Homo sapiens: one gene and its partner. The protein of the gene in region 2 interacts with the protein of the main gene of each other region in a biochemical or structural test. Each region holds a gene or a part of one and is shown on either strand. Other genes may lie near its edges. The genes, in order: MON1A and RABGEF1.

The links.
Region 1: the proteins of RABGEF1 (region 2) and MON1A form a complex in vitro, tested with the Homo sapiens proteins (one study listed by BioGRID).

Annotation. Positions count from the first base shown.
Region 1 is NC_000003.12:49,924,176-49,935,501, forward strand, and holds the start of MON1A (vacuolar fusion protein MON1 homolog A), read right to left. Parts: upstream 5,637-11,326; 5' UTR 5,434-5,636; intron 5,361-5,433; exon of another isoform or gene 5,194-5,360; intron 5,160-5,193; exon of another isoform or gene 5,107-5,159; intron 1-5,106. UniProt on the Homo sapiens protein: Plays an important role in membrane trafficking through the secretory apparatus. Not involved in endocytic trafficking to lysosomes.
Region 2 is NC_000007.14:66,769,653-66,780,554, reverse strand, and holds part of RABGEF1 (rab5 GDP/GTP exchange factor), read right to left. Parts: intron 10,233-10,902; exon of another isoform or gene 10,088-10,232; intron 8,673-10,087; coding exon of another isoform or gene 8,656-8,672; coding exon 8,477-8,655; intron 6,865-8,476; coding exon of another isoform or gene 6,728-6,864; intron 5,329-6,727; coding exon 5,162-5,328; intron 1-5,161. UniProt on the Homo sapiens protein: Rab effector protein acting as linker between gamma-adaptin, RAB4A or RAB5A. Involved in endocytic membrane fusion and membrane trafficking of recycling endosomes. Stimulates nucleotide exchange on RAB5A. Can act as a ubiquitin ligase.

The DNA of each region.
Region 1 (11,326 bases), on a different chromosome or scaffold from region 2:
TTAGCTCTATTTCAGAATACAGGCACATCCAGCAAAATGTCTCTAGTTAACATTTTCACCATAGAATGCCTTTTTGTTTTTAATATCCAGCTTGGTTGTCAGCCTTCAAGATGGTCTCTAGTAATCCTCAACTCCTGCTATGCGACTTTGCATACTCCCTTTCCACACTGAGCAGGGCTGACCTATGCAACCAATAGGACACTGTGTAAATAACAATGTGTGGCTGGGGACAGTGGCTTATGCCTGTAATCCCAGCACTTTGGGAGGCCAGGATGGGCTGATCACTTGAGGTCAGGAGTTTGAGACCAGCCTGGACAACATGGTGAAACCCCATCTCTACTAAAAATACAAAAATTACCTAGGTGTCATGACGGGCGCCTGTAATCCCAACTGCTTGGGAGGCTAAGGTATGAGAATCACTTGAACCCGGGGGGAGGCAGAGGTTGCAGTGAGCTGAGATCGCACTGCTGCACTCCAGCTTGGGTGCCAGAGCAGACCCTGTCTCAAAAAAAAATGAAAAAACAATGTGTGACTTCTGAGGCTAGGTCATAAAAGACATTGTGGCTTCTGCCTTGTTCTCTTGGATCATTCCCTCTAGGGAAAGCCATCAGCCATGTTGTAAGGACATGTAAGCAGCTCTATGGAGAGAACTTCATGGCAAGGGACTGAGACCTCCTGTGAACAGCCAGTACCAACTTGCTAGTCATGAGTGAGTCATCTCGGAAGCAGATCATCTAGGCCCAGTCAAACCTTCAGATGACTTCAACGTAATAAGAGACCCTGAGCTTGAGCCATCCAGCTAAGCCACTCCCAAATTCTTGACCCACAAGAACTGTATGAGATAATAAATATTGTTGTTTTAAGCTGCTAAGTTTTGGCATAATTTGTTACACAGCAATAGTTAACTAATATACCAAACTTATGTTGATTCAGCTTATGTTTATTTATTTATCTATTGAGACAGGGTCTCACTCTGCCACCCAGGCCGAAGTGCAATAGTGTGATCATGGTTCACTGTAGCCTCAACCTCCCAGGCCCAAGTGATCCTCCCACCTCAGCCTCCCAAGTAGCTGGGACCACAGGCATGTGCCACCATGCCTGGCTAATTTTTTAATTTTTTGTAGAGACAGGGTCTCCTTATGTTGCCCAAGCTGCTCTCAAACTCCTTGACTCAAGTGATCTGCCTGCCTCAGCCTCTCAAAGTACTGGGATTACAGGTGTGAGCCACCACACCTGGCCCAGTGTATGTTTATACAGAAAATATGTATATTTACATCATTAAAATCTTATCTATATTTTTAACAAAGTAATGTGCATTTAAAGCTTCAAATTATATTCCAAATAGAACTGATAGAAAATTACTGAGTGCCAGCCTGGCTGACATAGTGAGACCCTGTCTCTACAAAATAAAAAATCAGCTGGGTGGGGCAGCTCATGCCTGTAGTCCCACCTACTTAAGAGGCTGAGGTGGGAGGATCGCTTGAGTACAGGAGGTCAAGGCTGCAGTGAGCCGTGATTGTGCCACTGTACTCCAGCCTGGGCAACACAGCAAGACCCTGTCTCAATCAATCAATCAATGGAAAATATATTAAGTTGAAGATTTCACACAGAATGTCCAATTTTCATGAAACAGATTACTGATGTTAAGTGGGAAATGCCTATATCCAGAATCTGACCACTTGTCACCTCCACAGCTACCACTGTGGTCAAAGCCACCAGTGTCTCTCTAGGAGATTGTTGCAGTAATCTCCTATCTAGTCTCCCCTCTTTTGCCCTTGTCCCTGCATAATCTGTGCTTCTTACAGCAAAGTGATTCTCTTGATACAGAACTCAGGTCATGCAGTTCCTCTGCTCACAACTCTGTAATGGTCCCACCTTACTCAGTGAGAAAGCCAATTTCCTCACAGTGGTGCACAAGGCCCCACTCAACATAACTCCTTCCCCATTACTTCTTTGACCTCATCTCTTATCCTTTTTCCCCACTAACTGTGATTCAGCCCAGCCATAGTGGCCTCCTGGCTTTCCTTAAGCCTCCTGGGCACTCTTTAACTTTAGAACTTTGCCGTTGCTGAACTTTCCCCCTGCACCCCACTTCACCTACTCCATTGCCTGGGCTAGTTATCTATGTGACTCAGTCCCTCACTCCCTTCAGGTTGCTGCTCAAGCATTACCTTATCAATATCCCTGCTCCTTACCCCTCTTGCCCTGCTTTATTTCTCTGGATTGAAGGTTACCCTGTGACCTACCACAAATTTCAGTATGGCTTTAAGCCACATGCGGGAGGAGTTCTATTTTTTTTGAGACAGAATCTCACTCTGTCACCCAGGCTGGAGTGCAGTGATGCAATCACAGCTAACTGTAGCCCTGGCCTCTCAGGCTCAAATGATCCTTCCACCTCAGCCTCCTGAGTACCTGAGACTACAGGCACGTGCCACCACGCCTGGCTAATTTTTTAATTTTTATTTTTGTAGAGATGGGGTCTCAGTATGTTGTCCAGGCTGTTCTCAAACTCCTGAACTGAAGATCCTCCCTCCTAGGGCTCCCAAAGTGCTGGGATTACAGGTGTGAGCCACCACATCCAGCCAACAGACATCTTTGGGAGGGAGATTTTTTTTTTTTTTGAGATGGAGTCTCATTCTGTCGCCCAGGCTGGAGTGCAGTGGCATGATCTTGGCTCACTGCAACCTCTGCCTCCTGGGTTCAAGCAATTCTTGTGCCTCAGCCTCCCGAGTAGCTGGGATTACAGGTGTGTACCACCATGCCCATCCAATTTTTGTATTTTTAGTAGAGATGGGGTTTCATCATGTTGGCCAGGCTGGTCCCAAACTCCTGACCTCAGGTGATCCACCGGCCTCGGCCTCCCAAAGTGCTGGGATTACAGGCATGAGCCACCGCGCCCAGCTGAACTTGTGTTTTTATCCCTCAGGCAATTAAAAAAGAAAAATGGAAGGGAAAACTGAAAGATCTCTGAAGAATGCCCAGCTCTGTCACACCTGTGATGTGGCCTCTGGAAACCCCTGCCTGTGGGGAAGACTTATCACTGGTACTACTCAGGTGTTCAGGAACAATGGCTCCGAAGTTAGAGGGACCTGGATTAACCTGGCCTGGTCTCAGTTTTCTCATTTATAAAATGGGATAGTAGTATTGATTCCTTGGGTTGTGGGAAGATTAAATGAAATAATCCATGTAATTTGATTACATACTCAGTTGCTCCCATTAGCACATCCTGATTATTCTTACTTAGCATTCAGTCCATGTGTGACTGCACTTATAATACCACATGAATCCAGTGGTCTGTGCCATGTAAATCGGGCCTCTGAGATTTTGCTCAGCCTACAGTGGCATATGGGCAAATACGCTTCTGACCTTGCAAAGCCAGGTGGGCCCTAGCCTGAAGCGACTCACCTTCAGGCTAGGGCTATCATATAGACAGTTGGGAGTCAGGTCAAAGAGCTGTCTTATAGACAGCTGGGAGTTCCTCCAGGCTAACTGGTTGTTCACTGGCTCTGGAGTTGCAGGAATAGACAACGGGCTCTCTGCTGCTCTTGGAAGTATCTCCTAAATTAAACTCCTTAATTAGCCAGGTATGGTGGCAGGCGCCTATAATCCCAGCTACTCAGGAGGCTGAGGCAGGAGAATCACTTGAACCCAGGGGGCAGAGGTTGCAGTGAGCTGATATCGCGCCATTGCACTCCAGCCTGGGCAAAAGATTGAAACTCTGTCTCAAAAAAAAAAACAACAAAAAAAAACAAAAAACTCCTTGGTCTGCCACATGCCACTGCTCTGTGACGTTGCACTTTTGGTTCAAAGACCCAAACAAGGTCTACAATAGCTTACTTATTCTGTCCTCAGGGCCCACTCTCCACTGATCCCTTGTGGGCTTTAGCTGACTAAGCCCAGTGTGGCTGAGTGGTACCCAGCACGGTACCTGCATGGGGAAGGGTTGGCGGGGGCCAGATCAGCTGGCCAGAGCTAGTGGATGCTTCCTTCACAATAGTTCTCCTGCCACCTGAGATCATACAGTATCTCAGCATCTCCTAGGTCAGTCTGGGGTCCAGCCAGAGGCCTGATGAAGCAAACAGCTCTCTGAATACTTACTCTGGAAACTCAGACAGGGAGGCTGAGTGAATCACAGCAAAATCCACCCCAACCCCCATTGGAGCCACAACTGTGCAACTGAAGCTCCTGGGAGGCTAGAATTGAAGAAGTTAGGCAAAGGAGGTCTCTTAGAACCAGCCCCAGATGCCCCTTCTCAGGGAACCCTTCTCAGACAACCCCTCTAGAAGCCCCAGGCCTTGCTTTTCCTAGAAGTGCCCTGCTATGCCTGTGAGCAATGTCACCAAACAAGTTGGCTCAATCAGCCCTTGTAGTGTGCCTCTCTCACTCAGGCAGCCTTGGAGCAGAGAAGGCCTTCAGAAGCCCCTCCCTACTGACTCCCTACCACTCCTGCTCCCTCTTCTTGCTTGGATAGCACTTCATTTCACCTTAACCCTTTGGAGCGGCCTGTCTGGAAAGGAGGTGCCAGGATACAGGATGTGTGGCAGACAAGGCCCAGGTGAGGCTGTGCTATGGCTGCTTCAGCAGGATGCCTACTCCATGCTGAGATCACAGTCTGGTCCTTGTCACTTCTGGCGGTTACTTCCCTCCCTGACAAAGGGTGCTCACTCTCCCTCTGCAAACTTGTGCCCAGAAAGGGTGGCTCACCCAGTACAAGGGACAACCCAGTTGCACCAGGCAAACTGGTGCAAAGTCCGGCCAGGCGCAGTGGCTCATGCCTGTAATCCCAGCACTTTGGGAAGCTGAGGCAGGCAGATCACCTGAGGTCAGGAGTTCAAGACGAGCCTGGCCAACATGGTGAAACCCCGTCTCTACTAAAAAAATACAAAAATACAAAAAATTAGCTGGGCGTGGTGGCGCATGCCTGTAATCCCAGCTACTCGGGAGGCTGAGGCAGGAGAATCGCTTGAACCTGGGAGGCGGAGGTTGCAGAGAGCTGAGATCACACCACTGCACTCCAGACTGGGCAACAAGAGTGAAACTCCGTCTAAAAACAACAAAGCAAAGACCCAAGCCCCTTCCAGGTGCTGCCCCGCTCATCCCAGTTACCTCTGTTGCTTTTTGAGAAGACTCTACCGGCCGAATATGTGTACGTTTGTTGGCGGGGCGGGGGTGGGGGAGTGGGGAGAGTCCTACCTGGCCACTGCCCCCTACCGGATCTCGCCCTCCCAGCCAAAGGATGGGTTCCAGATCTCGCCTTTTGTATTCCCCAGCTGGGGACTAGCCGGCTGAGGGACCGCAGGGAGACACAGTCTTCCCATTGCAAACGATAGCGTTGATGGCTGGAGGCCCCCGTCTTCAAGCCCCTCCCTCCAAAGATGACAGCTCTCCAGTCTCTAGGTGCCTCCAGGCCACGTGGGCTGGCAGTCAACTCACCTGTTTCTCAGAGGAGTCCAGGACGCACAGAAGGTGCCGGTCACTGCCCTCTGCCGGACCCATGGAGGGGTAAGGGTGTCCGGCCGGGGCCGGCCTGAGGGCACAGCTTCGCGGGGCCCCGGCCCCCTGCGTACACAGACATGGCCACAGCGCAGGCACCGCTCCCTCCCACCGCCCTCACCCGGCCGCCGGTGCAGGAAGATAGCTTTCGCCGGCCTCTCGCGGCCAAGGCCCAGCTCCAGCCGCTCAGCCCGACTCGGCCCGCCCCCGGGGTGCATTGTGGGAAATGTAGTCCTTAGCGTTTGGCCGCCTGCGGCGCCGAGGGACTGGTTCTGGGCTCCTAGTCCCAGCAGAGCCGTGGGCAGGTCCTGACCCGGGTCCGCGATTGCCTCATCCGGCGCCGCCTTCTAGGGGCCTGGGCGCCTCCTCCGAGTCTAGAGTCCCACACAGAACAGCCCTGGACTCTGGGCCTCTCCGTCCGAGCCAGCTAGCAGTTCATTTCAAGTGAGAGAAAGGGACGTTAGGATTGTTTCTCCCACTGATTGTGGAAGGACAGTGCAAGTTTGGGGGACTGGATAAATGTCATTAGTGGGCCCAGCCACACAGGCTGTAAAGGATGTGGGCATGCGCAAAAGTCGCACTAATTGTTTCTAAAAACATATTTGTAGCCACGTTTTAATGTATCAGTATAATGCTCTAGAACGGTAGTTCTCAACTCTGACGGCACATAGAATAAGCCGGGAAGCTTTAAAAAAAAAAAAAAAGAACTAGGACGGGCGAGGCGGCTCACGCCTGTAATCCCAACACTTGGGAGACCGAGGTGGGCGGATCACTTGAGGTCAGGAGTTCCAGACCAGCCTGGCCAACATGGTGAAACCCCATCTCTACTAAAAATACAAAAACTAGCCAGGCTTGATGGCGTGTGCCTGTAGTCCCAGATACTCGGGAGGCTGAAGTGGGATTCCAGGAGGTCGAGGTTGCTGTGAGCCATGATCATGCCCTGCACTCCAGCCTGAGCACCAGAGCGAGACCCTGTCTCAAAAACAACAACAAAAAAACTAATGCCTGGACACCAGCCCTAGAGATTTTGATTTAATTGAATTTAGAGTAGGGTGGAGTGTTGGGGAGCCAGGCATCACTATTGTTTTAAAAGCTCCCCAGGTGATTTACCATTGCAAAGAATCATTGTTTGTAATTTCCTAGACGCAAAGCAATAAAAACAACAGGAAAACAGTCAACAACAGGCTCTCCCAAAAGACCCTTATTTTTAGAGATGGTTTTAAAAAGTAAAATTAGTGTTTGGCACCACTGCTCATGTTCTTTTCTGAAGCAATTAATTCACTTTACAGCCTTATGGTTAATTCTCCCAAAAGTTAATAGGATGAAAAAAAAAGTCAGATCACTCCTCTGACTTTCCCTGCTGCTCCACAAGCACCTGGGGGCAGTGTCCTTTTCCTCTCTAAGCCCTACACTGGAGTTAGGGTAGAGCTCCGCCCCTGGGCTTTTCTTCCAGTCTCAGATGGCTGCCACTTGTAGCCTGCTTCCACAACACTGGCCTGTGACTGACATGGTGACAAAGCTGTGGCCTTTCACTGAAGATGGCTTTGCATAAGGCTATCAAGTTCTTGCACATAGTCTAAGGGAAGCTTTCTCACCCCCATGTCCCCCACTTTTAGGTAAGGACATAAGAAAATGCCCTATTCCTTAACTGAGAGTCTCTCCAGGTCTCCACAGATCACTCAGTATTTTATCTCCTCATTAGCTCAGAAGTCCAAGTTCCCTCCCTTAGGGCAAGAATCATTTATACAGTTGTTTTCTCTAATTATTACACTATAAGAGTTTGAGCCATGAGCTGGGCTTGGTGGCACAGCCTTGTAATCCCAATTACTCCACAGGCTGAAGCAGGAAGAATTACTTGAGCCCAGGAGATCAAGTCTGAAGTGAGCCATGATCATGGACAACAAGAAGGAGAAAGTTAAGAAAGAAGGAAGGAAGGGAGGGAGGGAGGAAGGAAGGAAGGAAGGAGAGTTTAAGTCAAGATATAACATTCTCTGCTTGGTACAGAAATGTCCTGGCTATGTTCCTTTCCTTTTTCTTTTTCTTTTTTTATTTTTTTTTTAGAGATGGTGGTTTCACTATGCTATGTTGACAAGGCTGGTATCGAACTCTTGGCCTCAAGCAATTTTCCCATCTTGGCCTCCCAAAGTACTGTGATTACAGGCATAAGCCACCATGCCTGGCTAATATCCTGCCTATATTTCATTAACTTGAATTTACACCCTATAGAATTCATCTCCATAGAAGACAAATTAATTTAATTTACTTATTTTTTTTCAAATGAAGTCTCTATCATCCAGGCTAGAGTGCAGTGGTGCCATCTCAGCTCACTGCAACCTCTGCCTTCTGGGTTCAAGTAGTTCTCTGCCTCAGCCTCCCGAGTGGCTGGGATTACAGGTACCTACCACCACGCCCAGCTAATTTTTGTATTTTTAGTAGAGACAGGGTTTCACCATCTTGGCCAGGCTGGTCTTGAACTCCTGACCTCGTGATCCACCCGCCTCAGCCTCCCAAAGTGCTGGGATTACAGGCATGAGCCACCACACCCCGCCCAGAAGACAAATTTAAAGTTTTCTTTTTTTTTTTTTTTTTGAGACGGAGTCTCGCTCTGTTGCCCAGGCTGGAGTGCAGTGACGTGATCTCAGCTCACTGCAACCTCCGCCTCCCGCGTTCAAGCAATTTTCCTGCCTCAGCCTCCAGAGTAGCTGGGATTACAGGTGCGTACCACCACGCCCGGCAAATTTTTGTGATTTTTGTATTTTTAGTAGAGACATGTTTCACCATGTTGGTCAGACTGGTCTCGAACTCCTGACCTCGTGATTCATCCATCTCGGCCTCCCAAAGTGCTGGGATTACAGGTATGAGCCACTGCGCCCGGCCAGTTTTTTGTTTTGTTTTGTTTTTTTGAGATGAAGTCTTGCTCAGTCACCCAGTCTGGAGTGCAGTGGCACTATCTCGGCTCACTGCAACCTTAGCCTCCCACGTTCAAGCGATTCTCCTGCCTCAGCCTCCCAAGTAGCTGGGACTACAGGCATGCACCACCATGCCCAGCTAATTTTTTTATTTTTAGTAGAGATGGGGTTCCACCATGTTGGCCAGGATGGTCTCAATCTCTTGACCTTGTGATCCGCCCGCCTCGGCCTCCCAAAGTGCTGGGATTACAGGCGTGAGCCACTGCGTCCAGCCTAATTTTTGTATTTTTAGTAGAGACGGGGTTTCACCAATGTTGGCCAGGCTGATCTCGAACTCCTGACCTTGTGATCCGCATCCACCCACCTCGGCCTCCCAAAGTGCTGGGATTACAGGTGTGAGCCACTGCGCCTGACCAAATTTAAAGTTTTCTACCTAACTAGTTCTTGACAGTCTCCATGTTTAGCTCAGGATTTCTTCCAGAGTCTTACTATTCCTGTTAAGCACATCAGCTCCACCAGATAGTACTACTGTCATCTGGAAGTATTACATCTACTTAGCTAAGCAAGTGGCCATATATCTCATATATTTCTCGCTAAGACTTGTGCCTAAGACATTCTCGCAGAGCAAATCATGGTGGGTACTTACTAAAACATCTTAGGTTATTACTTAAAACTTTGTTTTAATCCACTTTTTTTTTTTTTTTTGAAACGGTGTTTCACTCTTGTTGCCCAGGCTGAAGTGCAATGGTGCGATCTCGGCTCACCACAACCTCCTTCTCCCGGGTTCAGGCGATTTTCCTGCCTTAGCCTCCCAAGTAGCTGAGATTACAGGCATGTGCCACCACACCCGGCTAATTTTGTATTTTTAGTAGAGATGGGGTTTCTCCATGTTGGTCAGGCTGGTCTCGAACTCCCGACCTCAGGCAATCCACCCACCTCGGCCTCCCAAAGTGCTGGGATTACAGGCATGAGCCCCCATGCCCGGCCTTGTTTGTTTTTTGAGTCAGGGTCTTAATCTGTCACCCAGGCTGTAGTGCAGTGGCTCACTGCAGCCTTGACCTCCTGGGCCTAAGTGATCCTCCCACTTCAGCCTCCCGAGTGGCTGGGACCACAAGTGTGTGCCACCACATTGGGCAAGTTTTAAATTTTTTGTAGAAATGGCGTCTCCTTATGTTGCCCAGGCTGGTCTGGAACTCCTGGGCTCAAGCAATCCTCCTACCTTGGCCTCCCAAAGTGTTGGGATTACAGGTGTGAGCCACTGTGCCTGGACTGTTTTTATTTTTATATTGAGACAGAGTCTCAATATGTTGCCCAGACTGGCCAGGAACTACTGGGCCCAAGCCATCCTCCCACATCAGCCTCCTGAGTAATTAAGACTACACACCCAGCAAGGATACACTTGAGTTATAACCTTGCAGCACCTCAGGTTCTGACATCTTCACTAAAGCTAGAAAAGAGAAGAAATATGGGGAAGAACAAGACGTCTAATTGTTACATTTCTTCCGCCTTCACTTTTCAGCTGTGGCAAGTTACTTAACCTTTCTGGGCTCTGGTTTCCTTAACTATAAAAGGGGAGGCAGGGAGTGGTGGTTCATGCCTATAATCCCAGAACTTTGGGAAGCCGAGGTGGGTGGATCACCTGAGGTCAGGAGTTCGGGACCAGCCTGGCCAAGATGCTGAAACCCCGTCTCTACTAAAACTACCAAAAAATTAGCTGAGCATGGTGGTGTGAGCCTGTAATCTCAGCTACTCAGGAGGCTGAGGCAGGAGAATCGTTTGAACCCTGGAGGTGGAGGCGGAGGCGGAGGCAGAGGTTGCGGTGAGCCGAGATCGCGCCACTGCACTTCAGCCTGGGTGAAAGAGCAAGACTGTCTTGGAAAAAAAAAAAAAAACTATAAAAGGGGATAATATTGGCCAGGCTAGTGGCTCATGCCTGTAATCCAGCACTTTGGGAGGCTGAGGCAGGTGGTCATGAGGTCAAGAGATCAAGACCATTCTGGCCAACATAGTGAAACCCTGTCTCTACTAAAAATACAAAAATTAGCTGGATGTGGTGGCATGTGCCTATTGTCCCAGCTACTCGGGAGGCTAAGATGGAAGAATCGCTTGAGCCGGGGAGGCGGAGGTCACAGTGAGCCGAGATTGTGCCACTGCACTCCAGCCTGGTGACAGAGCGAGACTCCATCTCAAAAAACAGGGGATAATGTCATATAGTTATTACGAGGATTAAATGAAATCATAGATGAAGTGCCAGCACCATGCCAGGCACGTGGTTTGATAAAGTGTAGCAATTATTATTACCCAAGGAGATTGGGCCTAAACCAATAATAATTAGTTCCTTAATATGGTATATACCTCTTAAGAGGATAAAGTATTATCTGATAAGTGAAAGATCCATCAGTAAAGGCCTAGGGCCTAGTTTGAGAAGCAAAGTCAAAATACCCATAATTCTTTTTTTTTTTTTTTTTTTTTTTTTTTAGACAGTCTCACTCTGTTGCGCAGGCTAGAGTGCAGTGGTGTGATCTTGGCTCACTGCATCCTCCACCTCCCAGGTTCAAGCGATTTTCCTGCCTCAGCCTCCTGAGTAGCTGGGATTACAGGTGCCTGCCACCATGCCCAGCTAATTTTTGCATTTTTATTAGAGATGAGGTTTCACCATGTTGGCTAGACTGGTCTCAAACTCCTGAACTCAGGTGATCCACCCACCTTGGCCTTCCCAAAGTGCTGGGATTACAGGCATGAGCCACCGCACCTGGCCAAAATACCCATAGTTCTGTTCCTCCTCTTCCCTGAAACCTGTTAGCACTGGTGTGGCCTAGGTGTTCAAGGCTTAAACTTTGCTTTCCCATCTCTGCTTACTCCTTTACTCCCTTGGTTATCTCATCCAGGCCTGTGGCTTTAGATATTAGCAACATGCTGATACC
Region 2 (10,902 bases):
CTATCTGACTCTGATAGAACACTCAACCCAACAAAAACATAACACTCCATCTGACAAAATAATAATGTTAGTAACTTACATATAGATAATGCCTATTATGCACTAAGTACTTTTACAATGTTATTTTGTATAATCCTCACAAGTCTATCAGGTTGTACACTTACAATATTTACAAATGAGGAAGCTGAGGCTTGAATATGTTAAGTAACTTGAATAATGTTGCAGTCACTTACATAGTAAAGAATGGAATTTGAACCCAGGTCTGTGCGCTTAAATCCAAAGCCTGAGCTGTTGACTATTAACAACTGACTATGAGGTAGTACAACTACCTCAGTAAGCCAGAGGACTGAAGACTCTTCAGAAGAACACCAACTCCTCTGACTTTGGAGGTCTGTACACCAGTCAAAACACAGGAAAATCCTACTCATTTCCTTTATTGCTTTGCTTACAACATGCCTCCCTCCCACACATACTTTTCCAAAGACACACTTTTGCTTTAAAACAAAAAAAACCCTTTTAAAATGTAAATGAGGATTAACTCTACTAGCTAGTTATGATCATACAAGTTACTAAAATCAACACTTGGTTGTTTTTCTCCAAGCTTCCTAAAAATCAATCCCTACTAAGAGGCCAGAAGTTTGGATTAGAGAGGGGAAAGTGAGAGACAGCTCAGGTGTTCGGTATGCAGGGAGGAGGCGACTTATGTTTGAACAGCCAATAGGGATTCCGTGTGTAAGATGAAAGAAGTGAAGAAGTAGGAAATATGGAAAAGAACAACCTCATCCACGTTACAGTTCATAATTTTGGCTAGGGCTCAAACAGCAAGTGCTTGCTCCTAAACTTAAAAGTCACCTTGTGTTTTTGGTGTTTTTTTTTTTTTTTTTAATCAGGGTCTCGCTCTGTCACCCAGGCTGGAGTACGGTTGCATGATCACAGCACATTGCAGCCTCAACCTCCCAGGCACAAATGATCCTCCCATCTCAGCCTCCCAAGTAGTTGGGGCTACAGGCACTAGCCCAGCTAATTTTTTAATTTTTTTTTCTTTTTTTAAAGATGGGGGCCTCACATTGTTGCCCAGGCTGGAGTGCAATGGCACGATCTTGGCTCACTGCAATCTCCACCTCCCAGGTTCAAACAGTTCTCCTGCCTCAGCCTCCCAAGCAGCTGGGATTGCAGGCACGTGCCACCACCCCCAGCTAATTTTTGTATTTTTAGTAGAGACAGGGTTTCACCATGTTGGCCAGTCTGGTCTCGAACTCCCGACCTTAGGTGATCCACCTGCCTCGGCCTCCCAAAGTGCTGGGATCATAAGCGTGAGCCCCTGTGCCAGCCGTATTTCTCTATTTTACTAAATTAACACACGGATTATGATTTTTGTTCAATCAGTTATACTTCATTTATTGTCCTTATTTATAGATTTCTTCATTTTATTTTATTTATTTTTTAAGACGGAGTCTCACTTTGTTGCCCAGGCTGGAGTGGCACGATCTCAGCTCACTGCAACCTCCACTCCCCGGGTTCAAGCGATTCTCCTGACTCTGACTCCCAAGTAGCTGGGATTACAGGCGCACACTTCCACACCTGACTAATTTGGTATTCTTAGTAGAGACGGGGTTGTGCCACGTTGGTCAGGCTGGTCTCAAACTCCCAACCTTAGGTGATCTGCCTGCCTTGGTCTCCCAAAGTGCTGGGATTATAGGCCTGAGCCACCGTGCCTGGCCTTATTGTCCTTATTTATTTTGACATTCAAATTATCCCAGACTTGGCCAGTGGAAACCCCTCCAAGCTGGCTTCTGGATCTTCTGAAATGTCCCCAAAATATTGAAGGGGCCCTTTTTTCCCTACTCTAGCCCCAGAATCAGTCACTTCTCCAAGAAGCCCTGATTCACTTTAATGAATAATAGGTTTACTTTCTAAGGTCTGGGTGGTATTGGTATTTTAACTCTAAAAATGAAAAGATATGCTTTAGAGAATCACCGTCTTCAGATCCGTTCATGAAAGAGGTACACAAGATTCTACTTGGAATGACAACATTATAGGAGTTCTGAAAGAAAAGGGCACTTTGGAATGTATAAGCAAGTATCTCAGCTTGGTCAACCACTATGACTTCCTCTATACAGCTCACTCACCCTGACTGTAGAGACTAAAACACTTTAACTGAGTCTTTACAGTCAAGACATTCCATTTACTTTCTCTGAAGGCGTATCCAACTCTAAAAGAATGTGAAGATATTCTTCAAATTCCTTAGAAGGTTATTTGTATTTTGTCTGCTACCAAGCTGCTACGTATGGCATAAAAACTTTCCTTTATGCTACTAACAGAAGCAAGTAAAACACCAACAGCAAGGGTATCATGGACTAAGGAAGATTCAAGAATACAGAATCCAAAAAGTCTGTTTCTAGTCTAGACCTAATACATTAAAACGGCACTTAGGCTAATCTTATCCAAACACAATGGCCAAACAAAAGTAATCAGTGTGAAATGCAAAATTTACCTGGCTAAGTTATATTAAGTGATCTGTGAAACAAAGATACAATGGAATCTTCTTTTCTAACATGAATTTTTAAAATACTTTAAGGTCTTTATCCCCAAAGCTTTCTACAGACAAAAAGCAACTAAAGAACAAACAATCTAAAGTACAAATCTATCATTCAAAAAGATGGGGGATGAGGGGAGACAAGAACAAAGGTAAAAATCATTCTGCATACATATTTTTAAAACAAAATTCACCTGGATTCTTTATTAATTAATTAATTTTTTTAATGTTGGTGTCTCACTCTGCTGCCTAGGCTGGAGTGCAGTGGCACAATCAGAGCTCACTGCAGCCACTAACTCCTGGGCTCATGTAATCCTCCTACCTTAGTCTTCCAAGTAGCTGGGATTATAGGTAGGTAGAAGCCACTGCACCCAGCTCCAGAAATGTTTCTTTTTAAAGTACAGACTCTGCATTGAATTGTAAATTTTCTTTCAATAGTATAATGCACACTGTACAGAGGCTTTTGGGACACAGGTTTTTAAAACCACCAAGGAGAGTTAGCAAATATAAATGACAATTATGTACTTAAGTAACAGAAACTTAATTTCATATATATATATTATTTATGATATATATTAAATAACCTGGGCTTCTGAAGTATACACATTGGATAAAGGAATATAATGGAAAAATATTGACCCAGGAATTAGGAGACATGAGTTCTCATGCACAAACTCATTGTGCAACCTTGGGTAAATTAGTTAACCTTTATGGACTTTCACACTGTCCTCTGCAAAATGAGGCTATTGGAGCTGATAATTTTATACTTGTTTTACTATTTCATCTGTTATCATAAATACTTATCATTTCACTACATATCATCAAGAAACAGACCTTAAGCTAAATAGGAATGAGTATTCTTCATAGCAAATGCCCTTGTGCTCCCTGCAAGATAATTCTATCAGAAGAATAACTTGCATTTTAAAACAGCTAACACTTACTGGAGATCTACTGTGTGTGTCAGGCACTGTGCTAAGCTCTTTACATGCATTAACTCACTGAATCCTCATCACGTGCCTCTGGTAGGTATTATTGTCCCTCAGTGTGGACAGGACTCGGAGAGGTTAGTCTGTCCAAGGTCACAAAGCTGGTAAATACAAAGCTAGGGCTCAAACCAGGAGTGACTCCAAAGTCACCTTACTACCTGGCTATTCCACCTCCTAATAAATAAATCATGAGCCCAATACATTCTTATTTAATCTCTGGCAGGTACTAATTTTTCCCCCCTTTTTCGTAGAGATAAAATTGCTACAACTGGCAGCCAACCAAGAAACAACTTCAAATTAATCATGTAATCAATCTTTTTTCTTTTCTTTCCTTTTTTTAGACAGGGTCTTGCTCTGTCACCCAGGCTGGAGTGCAATGGCACGATTTCGGCTCACTGCAACCTCCTCCTCCTAGATTCAAATGATTCTCCTGCCTCAGCCTTCTGGCCTCAGCTGGAACTACAGGCACATGCCACTGTGCCTGGATGATTTTTCTATTTTTTGTAGAGGCGGGGTTTCACCATGTTGCCCAGACTGGTCTCAAACTCCTGAGCTCAGGTAATCCATCTGTCTTGGCCTCCCAAAGCGCTGAGATTACAGGCTTGAGCTACCGCACCAGGTCTGGTATCCATGTCTTAAAGAGAGGTGTGTTTTTGGTTATGAGCAATATTTCCTTTTAATAAAACAAAAGGAAACAGCAAAAGTCACAAAACCTAGAAGACCAGCAAGTATCTTAAGAAGTAACACTGTCTTATTATTCATTCCCCGGCCTTCAGGGGAGACCTCATTACAATTACCCCAGGGTAGGAACTGGGGAGCAAGTGAGGGGGCTCCCAGAGAACAGGTCTTCTGACAGCATCAGTGTTGGTTCCCAGTCTCCCTCATTATTTCGCTTTGACTGCATAACTCTGAGTACCAACATAAATTTTCAAAGACAGACTGAGGCCTAACAACAAAGAGTCTTTCTTGCTTCATGTTGGGCCACTTCAACTAGCTAGTCTGCTCAATGGTAGAACAACTGTGACTTAAGTGACAATCCTCTTGCTGGTTATATGGCATTTTAAAAAGCAGGGTGAATATGATCACCTACATACAAATCCATGCACTGGAAAATAGCTACTATGGCTCACTTTCATCCCCCCAAGAGCCCAACTTGGGCCTTTTCCTATATGTTCTCAATACACTTCCTCAAGACACAAGCTGTCTCTCAAATAAGCTCTCAGGCAGAAAATCTCTCTCTCAGATGACTATCAAGCCTAGAAATCACCATTTCTGACAAGCTATGAACAGTGAGGGTATTATACCACAGAACAAACCAGGATCCACAAATAAAGGCACAAAAACCAAAACATCCAAAGAGATAGTCATTTGGATGGGGATGAATTTCATAAGCAAAAGTACCTATTTCAATTCTCTTGATTCCTCCTATAAACAAATTTCTCTAAAACACAATGTCTTTCAACCAAAGAGAGTATTGATTTCATATACTGTCTGACCCTCAAGCCCAATTTCAGTGTCAAATCTGAGCTGATGTTCTCAAAAAGTTGACAGAAATTACAAAGCTGAGCTTATGAGCATTGGGGATCTCCTCTGTGTCTCACTCAGGCAGAGAAGAAAAAAAAGAGTATCAGAACATTACCCTTCTTTGATCCGACCCTGGAAGATGCACTGAAGAATTTCTTCACTGTGGTAACCTTGCGGGTCTTCTCGTTGGTTTTCTTTTCTTCAAACTTGGAGAATGTGAGGGATTGGGCCCCTTGGCTGCTCTGACTGCTGGCAAAGGCCTCTTCTTCCTCCCGCTGGAGTCTGCAATTCAAGAGAGGATTAGAATGACCTAGATATTCTCCAAGGTTTCTCTGTATGTGAAGGTTATTACTCCATTAATTCAGGAGGATCTAAAGATTTTAGACCTAGAGACTAAATATGCCAAATCAGTCTGAGGTCTCACATTGCTACAGGATGGACGGCTCTTCATGCACTACAGATTTCAAATGGGGTCTTCTCATACTCATTCAGCTACTGCTCTAGGGTTACATGAAAGAAATCAAGTCTAATCCTTTTCCCTAACAAGCTCAAGGCTGGAACAGACAAAAAGGTAAGTAAACAACTGCTACAGAATGGGACAGCTGCTACATCAGAGAGTAAAAGTTGAGTGCTGTGAGAACACAGGAAAGAACAACTCAATCTGCTGGGGGAGTCTGACGAGGCTTTACAACGGTGATGTTTGGGTGAGGTCTTAAAGGATAAATAGGATCCTTTTTTTGGTTGTTTTTGAGACAGAGTGTCACTCCATCGCCCAGGCTGGAGTGTAATAGCATGGTATCAGCTCACTACAACCTCTGCCTCCCGAGTTCAAGCAATTCTCATCCCTCAGCCTCCCAAGTTATTGGGACTACAGGCGCACACCACCACACCTGACTAATAAGGCTGAATAGGATTCTAAGTGAAAGGACATTCCAGAAAGAAGGAACTACAAATGTGCAAGCCTGTGGTTTGCTTCACAACAAGCTGAATGTAGCCAGAGCACTGGGCGTGTGATGAACTGTGATGCTGGATATACAGGAAGGCTCCAGAGGGTAGGGAATCTTGATTGCTGAGCCCACTATTCTGGATTTCATCATGTGGTAGGGAAGCAAGAAAGACTGTAAATCCAAGGAGTTATCGCTGTCAGATCTGTACTTTAGAAAGATCATGCAGGTAGCTGTGTGAACAACTTGAAGGGTAGAGAAACTAGAGACAGGAACAAGAAGTAAGAGTATATTATAAAGGTTTAAGTAAAAGAAAATAAGCACCTGGAAAATAGGAGTACAAAAGGTAAAATTCAAAAGACTTTTCTGAGTTGGAAGAAATAGAACTTGGTCAAGTTGTAGCTAGCATGGGAGATAAAAGAGAAATCAAGAATGAAACCAAGGTTTTTTAGCTAACTTGGTAAGTAGTGATGCCATTAATTGACTCAGGAGAAGGGTTAGGAGGAAAATGTTCAGAATGCGGAGAATAATAAATAAAAGCAATAAATTTGGCTTTGGATTAGCTGCATGTGAACCACCTGTATTAATTCCCAAACACAGGCCAGGTGCAGTGGCTCACGCCTGTAATCCCAGCACACTGGGAGGCCAAGGCGGCCGGATCACTTGAGCTCAGGAATTTGAGACCAGCCTGGGCAACATGGTGAAACCCTGTCTCTACATAAAATACAAAACTTAGCTGGGCATGGTGGCATACTTCTGTAGTCCTAGCTACTTGGGAGGCTGAAGCAGGAGGATCACTTGAGCCCAGGAAGCAGAGGTTGCAGTAAGTTGAAATTGCACCATTGCACTCCAGCCAGGGTAACAGAGCAAGACCCTGTCTCAAAAACAAACAAACAAACAAAAAGCACAAGCACTATCTAAAAGACAATGATTTTCCAAGTATGATTCCCCAGACAGCAGCGCAGCATCACCAGGCAACTTGTCAGAAATGCAAATTCTCTAGTCTTACTCCCAAGCCACTAAAATCAGAGACTCTGTGGGTAAGGTCCAGCAATCACTGCTTTTACAAGCTTTCCGAGAGATTTAGCAGGGTCACAATTAAAAGCAGTAAGAAATAGAAACAAAAATCACAGGTGGAGGTGCTAAGTCTGAGGGTGGAATCGGGACCCCTCTTTCTCTGGGACAGACAAGAAGTTAATATAAAGGTACTAGGACATTTTTATGTGGTGAGGGGAGGAAGCTGAGGGAGTTTGTGCCTAGTGGCCTCTACTCTGTTTTTGAAACAGGATCTGCTACTGACAGCATCAGGCATGCAGTGGAAACCCTGAGGAGATCATTCATGTTCTCGGCTAAAATTTTCTCTCTTTGATTGAACACAGTCACTGAAAGCAATGTGTAATTTCTAATTCTCTGAGTTCACTACAAATGACAGCAAAGGAGTCACTCAACAAATATTGGCTGACTGGATGAAAAAAAAAAAACAAACAACTAGCTAGAGGAGTTGGCAGAATTCCATTTGACTTTCTTCTGTTGAAGCAGTTTTAGAATTCTAGAATGCTCTGGCAAAGAATTAACATTATTCATGGCATTTTATTAGTTCCTATGCTCACTAGCCATCCCATCATTTATTTATTTATTTATTTATTTTTTTTTGAGACAGAGTCTCACTCTGTCTCCCAAGCTGGAGTGCAGTGGCATGATCTCAGCTCACTGCAACCTCCGATACCTGGGTTCAAGCAATTCTCCTGCCTCAGTCTCCCAAGTAGCTGGGATAACAAATGCGTACCACCATGCCCGGCTAACTTTTTTAATATTTTTAGTAGAGAGGGGGTTTCACCATGTTGGTCAGGCTGGTCTCGAACTCCTGACCTCAGATGATCCTCCTGCCTCACCCTCCCAAAGTGCTAGGATTACAGGCGTGAGCCACTGCGCCCGGCCCATCGTTTAATTTTTAACATCATTATATTTCCGGATAATACCAAATGCTAACCTAATTTTTAAATATAAGTTAAATTTCTACAATGCAATGACTATGTATACAAGTCAACAGATTTCTACTACTGTGTTTTATCACTGAGCTAGATGCCATGCTAAATATATATTAAAAGAATGAGGGAAATAATGCTTGATGAGTGCCATTTCCAAGCCCTGCAGTGGGTACGTCAAATTTATTAGCTCATTTAATCTTCACCAGGAAATATGCCTATCTCCATTCTTCCACTCCAAGGAGCTTATTGTCTACATTTGAGAACTAAAACTAACACAACCCAAAGAAAATAATCAGAAGACAAACACAAAATGAAGAAACTACTGAAAGCTGTTCATTAAAAGCTGACTGAGAAGAAGAGAGGAAAACATCCTTTTCCTTAATATTAAACTGACTTGCTGATAGCTCAAAGCAGAAGTGAAAAAATGTATTTAGACGGTGACAGAACTATGTATCCAGTCACGTCACTGTTCAACCGCCCCTAGTTAAGTCCTTTTACCGCTCCGCCAGCTCCCAGTCCTCCTGAATCTGCTTCTGCCTGGCTTTGTGGTACTCTTCCCTCCAGCACTTGGAGCAGAAACCCTGCCAGGCAGGGTTGCCGTAGTAACCACATCCTTTCTTGCACAGGAGATCCGATTGATCCACATGAATTCCTCGGCGTTCAGACTTAAGGCTCATCTTCTTCCTGCTAACCACTGAACAAACAAGAAAGTGCTGTTGAAAATGAATTATCATTCTACTAAATAAAATCTTACCAATTATGAACAAAAAGTGAGTGATTCCATTATCTTCAAGCTGTTAAGAGAGGGATGGAGGGAATGAAGGAGGGAGGGAGAAAGAGGAGGAAGGAAGAAAAAAGAATGTTAAATATAGTAAATTCCTGACACAGCCATATTAAAGAAAGACTTATTCCCTGCCCAAAATAAAAAATAAAAAATAAAAAATTAAGAAAGGACTCACATTAGATTAAAGACCTAAATGTAAAGGCTGCAAACTAGAAAACTCCTAGAAAAAAAACTTAGGGGAAAAGCTTCCCGACACTGGATTTTGCAATGACTTCTAGGATATGACACCAAAAGCACAGGCAACAAAAGCAAAATCAGACAAATACATTATATCAAACTTTAAAATGTCTGCACAGGCCGGTGTGGTGGCTCACACCTGTAATCCCAGCCCTTTGGGAGGCTGAGGAGGGCGGATAACAAAATCAGGAGATTGAGAGTATCCTGGCTAACACGGTGAAACCCTGTCTCTACTAAAAATACAAAAAAATTAGCCAGGCGTGGTGGCGGGCGCCTGTAGTCCCAGCTATTCAGGAGGCTGAGGCAGGAGAATCACGTGAACCTGGGAGGCAGAGCCTGCAGTGAGCCAAGATCACGCCACTGCACTCCAGGCTGGGTGACAGAGCAAGACTCTGTCTCAAAAGAAATAAAAAATTTTTAAAAATTAAATATCTGCAAAACACAGGAACCAACTGACAGGGTAAAAAGGAACAACACACAGAATGGGAGAACTTATCTGCAAACCATATATCTAATAAGGGGTTAATATCTAAAATACGAAGGAACTCCTACAACTCAATAACAACAACAACAACAACAACAACAAACCCAAATAATCCGATTAACAAATGGGAAAAGGACTTCAATAAACAATTCTCCAAAGACATACCAACAGCCAACAAATGTGAAAAATGCTCAACATCACTAATCATCAGGGAAATGCAAATCAAAATCACAATGAGATATCACTTTACACCCATTAGGATGGCTACTGTAAAAAAAAACAAACCCAGGCTGGGCATAATGGCTCATGCCTGTAATCCCAGCACTTTGGGAGGCCAAGGTGGGAGGATCACTTGAGGCTAGGAGTTCAGGACCAGCCTGGGCAACACAGCAAGATCCCATCTCTACAAAAAACACAACAACTAGCTGGGAGTGATGGTGTATGCCTGTAGTCCCAGCTAATCGGGAGGCTGAGACAGAAGGATTGCCTGAGCCCAGGAGTTGGAGGCTGCAGTGAGGTATGATCACACCACTGCACTCCAGCCTGGGTGACAGAGCGAGGCCTTGTCTAGAGAGAAGAGAAGAGAAAAAAATTGAAATAATACCTTAAGTTCCAAAGTCAGTTTTCTTTTCTACTGTATAATATTTAAACTCATTTGTTCAGTCTCACAGCTGTATGGTAAATCGCTATGCAACAATTTCCGTTCAAACTGAAACCACATGGTCTTCATTCTTCTCCATATAAACAAACTGCCAAACAAGCACAGAAAAAAAGCAGCACTCCACACCATTCATTCAAGAAGACTCACATGTGCAGATAAAATTAAGCCCTATATCTTGGGGATCTTATTAATTTAACTCAAACATTTACTAAGTGCCAACTGTGTGCAGAGAATTGAGCTAGATGGCACTGGTGATGCAACTCATAGAACATGTCCTTACCCTCATGAAGCTCATAACCAAAAGTACAGGCAGACTGAAAAACGCAGAAAAAGAGAAAGTGTTAGGAAACTGTTAGGGAGCAACAGACATAGGAATTCTCACTTACGGAGTATAGAGAGACCACTTGGGGATGCTGGCGATAGACCTTAAAGAGCCTTGTGTTGAAAGGGTCTTGGAAGGATGACAGAAAGAGGGAGGGCATTCTGGACAGGAAGGATGCCTTTCACAAAAAGCTCAGAAGCAAGAAGGCAAGTGTAAAATATGAATGATGTAGCACAGACAGAAGGTAAACTAAACAACTTAGGTGGGAAGTCAAATCATGATGGCTTTTTAAAACTCTAAGCTACAGAGTCTGGATTGAAAGTCACCACTGAAAGCTCCTGAAAAGGGGAAAGCATGATAAGATCTCTATCTTAAGACATAAAACTTGAGATGTAGAGTTCTGTCTTCTAGCATGACTAAGTGAGAAGGAAAATAA